2 separate regions of the Homo sapiens genome follow, and region 1 is linked to region 2. Evidence: fine-mapped expression QTL. A gene starts in region 2. The other region holds a variant in brackets. All regions are shown on one strand. Distances are between the middles of the regions. Region 1 overlaps TRABD2A (TraB domain containing 2A). Region 2 holds the start of TRABD2A (TraB domain containing 2A).

What was found. PIP is the estimated chance that this variant, and not a neighbour inherited with it, causes the effect.
Region 1: its variant is the best candidate, but not a certain one, in a credible set for the expression of TRABD2A in whole blood (TOPMed, PIP 0.52).

The regions. Positions count from the first base shown.
Region 1 is chr2:84,853,572-84,856,475 of GRCh38, reverse strand. All of the region lies in intron 2 of TRABD2A (TraB domain containing 2A), which reads left to right. Among named protein-coding and RNA genes, the nearest start is that of TRABD2A, 26 kb to the left of the region's middle. The variant G/A (reference allele first, on the strand shown) is at 1,398.
Region 2 is chr2:84,879,618-84,882,521 of GRCh38, reverse strand. It overlaps TRABD2A (TraB domain containing 2A), which reads left to right and starts at 1,438. Exons shown (of 7, transcript NM_001277053.2): 1 at 1,438-1,590. The coding sequence starts at 1,483. RefSeq lists a silencer at 1,334-1,463 and enhancers at 1,193-1,693, 1,694-2,196.

The DNA of each region.
Region 1 (2,904 bases), 26 kb after region 2:
GCAGACCTAGACATCCAAAGAAGTGTGTGGAAGCTTTAGCTCCCGAGTCTGGCAGCATCCATTCACATGACAAGAAGGAGCAGGACTTTCATCACCTCCTTGGTTTGAGGGGCCAGTCTAGACTCTTCCAAGGGAATAGTCCCTTTTCAGGTAAGGGAGGAGGTATTTGGAAGAGTGGCTGCGAAGGTAGAAAATGAGCCTGAGAAGGACCTCCCCACTGCACGGAGACCTAGGTGAGGTGGGGAGGCAAGGACCAGACACCCTCAAGATGTCTTAAAAAATTATCTGGGTGAATGGTCTGAGGGCAAGGGAGACCCTTCCCCTACTCTTCTTAACTATACTTCAAGGGACTGAATGGCTCTCAAAAGTGAACTAAGATAAAAAGAAGACACAACAACTCCACACTCCAGAAGGTGAGGCCTGCGCTTGAACAGATGCGAGGCCCTTTGTTTGAGTGCGGGGAGGCTAGTGGGGTGGTGCGGGCCACTGTGAGCCGCGTAATGGGCGGTGCCTTTCATATGCAGAGCAGGTCTTTGATCTGAGGGGAATGAAAGTGCTGGAAAGAGGAGAGACTCGCTGGGGGGCCTTTGTTTTTGACAAAAAAGACATCTGCCGGACTCGAACCCCCTCACCCACCCCCTCAACCCCTGGGCTAACGCAACAATGCCCCAACTGGGACTTGGGTCTCCCCACAGCTGAACAAGTCTCAGGAAAGAGAAAAAGGTCTGCTGCAAATGTGGACAGGAGCTTAATCGATTCTTTCCACAGCCCAGAAAGAAAGGGAGAGAGAAGAAGGGCTGTGGGGAGGCAAGGGGAGAGTGGAAAGGGGGACGTGGGGGCTAGGGGGCAAGGAAGGGTAGAATTTGAACCCTGAAGTAAACTGTCTGGTGATAAGCCTGTAAAGTATTCTCCAGTGAGCACAACGTTCAGAAGGCAGTGCAGGTGGAGTGAATATGTGTCATTGGAGGGAGGGAGAAGGGGATTCAGCTGATGATAAGCCATGATTATGGTTAGACTGATAACCATTTTTTTTTAAAAAAAGGGAGTATAATGTTCGGCAAGCACTAATGTGAAAGTAGCAATCTGTGTATCTTACTTACTGTGTTTTCCAAGGGGAAAATTAAGTCCCTTTAGTTTTTGCACCGTAGGAAATGCCATATCAGGGGTGTTTTATCTTAGTTGTAATATTTCCAATAGTTCTTTTCTTGTGGTCTCCTGTATCTTGCCCTTCTTGAAATCTACACGAATGCAAATTAAAAGAGATTTGAAATGAGGCAATTGGTATTTGGCCTATAAAGATGAGCATTTTCTGCTTGTGGACGATTTTAAAGTCCATTCTGTGGGGTAGATGTACTCTTTGAATGTAAAGCTGATGATTCAGCCAGTGCCATATCATC[G/A]AGTCAGGTGTCCACTCAGGTGTAACTGGCATGGCTTGGGGAGGGAGGGGGCACGTGGAATCATGTCCTACATAGGGCTGTCCCTTCAGAGGCTGTGGTTTGGGTAGGGGTTGGTAGAGGAAGGGCACAGTGATTTGACACCTTTGGTACACCCAGTAGGAGAGAAAGGTCTGTAATCCAAGGATGGTTTTGTGGAGCTTTTCCCCAGAGGTGGACCTGACACCATGATCTCTGGGGGGGCAAGGGGCATTAGTTAACAGGACAGGAAGGGTGAATTTGAGGCTGTCTGTGCATCTTACCTGGTGGTGCTGTCATAACCAGGACAGGGCATTCAGGAGAAGTAGGTGTATTGCCTCTCCTTGCCTTAGAGTTGCATGGGTCTGGGCAGTCAGGCAGGTCTTGCCTGAGGAGAGGTTGGCTTTAGAGGCCTGGGAGGCACCAAGGCCAGTCTTCCTGCCTATTGCCCTGTTATTCTGTGCAGTTTCTCAGTGGAGAGTATCAACTTTGGAGACCGTGGATCTGGGTTTGAATCCTGGCTCCCCCATTTCCTAGTATTGTGACCTTGGGTGAGATATTGAACCTTTCTGAGTCTGTTTTCTTATTTCTAAAAGGGGTATGATGAAACAAACATTGTCAGTTTGTAGTAAAGAATAAATAGAGAACCTTTGTAAAGTGCCCAGTGCATAATGTTTTGGTAAGTTTGCTGTTGCTTTTGCTCCATCCACTGTAAGTGGTTGGGCTTACTCGTATCTAGCCTGTACAGTTGTCCCTCAGTATCCATGGGGGATTGGTTCCAAGACCCACTTGGATACCAAAATTCAAAGATGCTCAAGTTCCTGCTATAAAATGGCAAGTTGCATTTGGATATAACCTACGCACACCCTCCCAAATACTTTGTCATCTCTGCGTTACTTACAATACATAATACAATGTAAATGCAATGTAAATAGTTGTTATACTGTATTTTTGTTTTTAAAAATTGTATTATTTTTATTTTTTCAAATATAAATAATATATATTTATATATAATATATGAAATATAAATAAATAAATATTTTTTGAGATGGAGTCTCGCTCTGTGCCCAGGCAGGAGTGCAGTGGGGCGATCTCTGCTCACTGCAACCTCTGCCTCCCAGGTTCAAGTGATTCTTCTGCCTCAGCCTCCCAAGAAGCTGGGACCACAGGTGTGCGCCACCATGCCTAGCTAATTTTTGTATTTTTAGTACAGATGGAGTTTCACCATATTGGCCAGGCTGGTCTCGAAATCCTGACCTTGTGTGCCTTGGCCTCCCAAAGTGCTGGGATTATAGGCGTAAGCCACTGCACCCATCAAGGCTGGAAATCTTAAATTGAGGTATTGGCCAGTCAGTGTTCTCTCTGAAGGACCTAGAGGAGAATCCCCCCTTCCAGCTTCTGGTGGTTGACACCTATCCTTGGTGTTTCTTGTCTTGTAGGAGCCTCACTCCAGTCTCTGCCTGATATGGTTTGGCTGTGTCCCCACCCAAAT
Region 2 (2,904 bases):
TTCATTTGGAGTGGGAGAGATAACATGAAATAATAGGTAATTACATCCTTTTGAGTTTTTTGTTTTGTTTTGTTTTGTTTTATTTTAAATAAGAGACAGGGTCTCACTTTGTGGCCCAGGCTGGAGTGCAGTGGTTCGATCTTAGCTCAGGGCAACTTACGTTCTTGATGCTTTTTGCTTTTCCCCCTCACAACCGAAAGAGAAAGTTTTTGCCAGCAGGTGGCAGCGCTGGTGCCTGAAAACGCCAAAAAGCATCGTCCTGGGTTGGCCCGGAGACTAACGATTGCCGCCGGGCTGACACGGGGCAGTCATCTGAAGACAGGAGACAGTCAATTCCAGAAAGCAAATCCCCACTCAAACTTAGAAAAAAGCGATTTTACAAAAACATCTGAACTCTAAATGTTGGTGGAGTTAAATCTCGAAAGACTTGGCTCTTCAAAGCCAGGGGTTCTTTACGGGAAAGTTGGAAATGGGCTTCAGAAAACCTCTCCCCGCATTGTATGCAAATCTGCCCCCCCCCTTTTCTTTTTCCCTGGGAGATCGTCCAGTTATCAGATTCTCAAAATGGACAGCGACTTAAAGCAATTAAAGACCACTGCGACAAATGCTCCTGCGAACACCACTCCGAAGTTAATGGCGCAGACGTCTGGACTTTAAAAGGTGGTGGTAAAGTGCGCTCAGGCATGGGTAGGAGGTGCGGCAGGCGGGGCACAGCTACTTGCTTTCATAATTTTTTTTTCTTCCTGATGGACCAATGCTGTGAAAAATCCTCAGTGGGGTTTTGGAGCCGAAAGGGAGCGACTGCAGTTTGCAGGCTTGCTATGTGTGCCAATCAAGGTGTTTCTCATAAATTTCCTCTTTTAATCCTTGCGGCAATCCTCTGAGTTCGGTGTTAACATCCTTAATATTATTCCTAAAAATCCATTAAGAGGGCTCTTAATGGAGTGCCAGCTTTTGTGGTCCTGGATTTTCAGTGGATGCACACACTGACCATTCCCCTCTCTCTTTTACATTCAAAACTTCCGTGAGATTTCCTTTGTTTAAATGAACTTTCCTTTATAGATAGCCTTTCATTTGTTTATTTTGTCTGCCTCTTTCAATCAAGAGGCACCCTCCCCTCACAATCGGCAGCATAAGCACAGACGTAAACGCAGGAACCAATGCGATTTTAGGTTGAATTTAGGACAGCGCTGGAACTTCACTTTACCCCTCTTGCGGTCACACGAGGTGGGCGGCGGCCCCGGCAGGGTTTGGGCGGGAGAAACGCGGTTCGGGACTCCGCTGCCGCCTAGGCGCGGGGCTGACCTGCGGGGGTGGGGTGGGGGGAGGGAGGTCGAGGCCCGGCCCCACGTGGCCGCTGCTGCCGGGCTCACCCCAGCCCCGCCCGGAGGCGCCCCGCGGCCCCGGCTAGCCAGGGCGGGCGGCCACCTCTGCCCTACTCCTTCCCTCCGCGTTCCGGGCCTCGGAGCCGCCTTGAGGAGGATGAGTCCCTGGAGCTGGTTCCTGCTGCAGACCCTCTGCCTCCTGCCCACGGGCGCAGCTTCGCGGCGCGGGGCGCCCGGCACCGCCAACTGCGAGCTCAAGCCCCAAGTAAGGCGCGCGTCGGGTGCTGGAGAGCCGGCCTCTCTGCACCTCCTTGGGATGGTTTCCCTCCGAACCCCGCGAAGCAGCGCTTTCGGACCCCGAGCCGACTTCCGCGGCTGGGCTTTCACCTAGCACCGCGGCGCTCCTTGCTCGCTCTCCTCTCCGTGCCCTCGGGTTCCCCTTTCCCGCGGGGGCGCAGCCCGCAGGCTCCAAGCGACTCAGTGCCCTGGCCTTTGCCCTCCGCCAGCCCAAGGGCGTCCGAGAGAGCCTCTGGGGTCTCGCCAGCCATTTTCGCGAGCTTTCGGGGGACGGATCCGCCAGGGAGTACCGGACCAGGAACTTGGGCACATTTATTTGAAGTTTCTTCTTCCCTCTCTTCCTTAAGAGTTTAATTTCACCTGCTCTTATCAAAATATTAACAGCGCCCTGAAGCTGCTTGGCTTAACCTTCATATGTTCAGTGCCTGAGTTAGAAGGGACTTTAGGGAGTTGAAGCCATTTCCCTTGTTTTTACCGATCTGGGAAACTGACACTCAGCGGGGGACCTGTGTGCTCCAGGTCACAGAGTGCGTTCGCGGAGTGACCACTGTCCGAGCCTTGCGTGTCCAGCCGGGCGCTTTAGATGTTCGCATCAACGTTTTGTGGGTGAGGGAAACCCAGGCAAGGGAGGCTCAGTGACCTGCCCGAGTCAACACAGCTCTATAGCGGACAGGTCTTGCGTCTCCGAGGCTGGACCTCTTTCGAGATGAATATTTCCTTCTCTGATCAGTTTTCCTACACTCAGAATTTTCTGTGGTTCTCGAGTCCCTCTCTTCTGAGTGCGGCATAGGTTGAATTTCGCGCATTTGTTCCGGTGGGTTTGATATCTGTGCGTCCCTGGCTCTGGAGAGGGCCATGCCAGGCTTATCCTTCTGGTGCGCCCGCGACGCGGGGGTGGGGGGGGTTGGGGGTGGGTTGAGGGAGTGGGGGCTGGAATTTAGAGGCCCACCTTTGATGACACCTGCGCAGCTCCCCGGTCTGCCTCCACCCCTGGCCATTCGCAATTTTATTCCTCATCCCAACTGCAGCAAAGCAGAGGACGGCCAAATAGAGCCGATCCTGGAGCTCCGGGCTGGGAAGACGCACGGTGTTCGCCTCTGTAAGGCGTCGCGGGGCTGCGGACGGCCCTCTACCAAGGCAGGAGGCGCGGCAGCTGGAGAGGGGAGTCTGCACCAGGCATGGTTTCAAACTCTGTTGCGGTGTGGCCGCTTCATGCTTGTTAGACAAGGCAGGAGTCCATCTCCTCACAAGAAAGCACATTGCCTTTCACTTCTGCAAAACC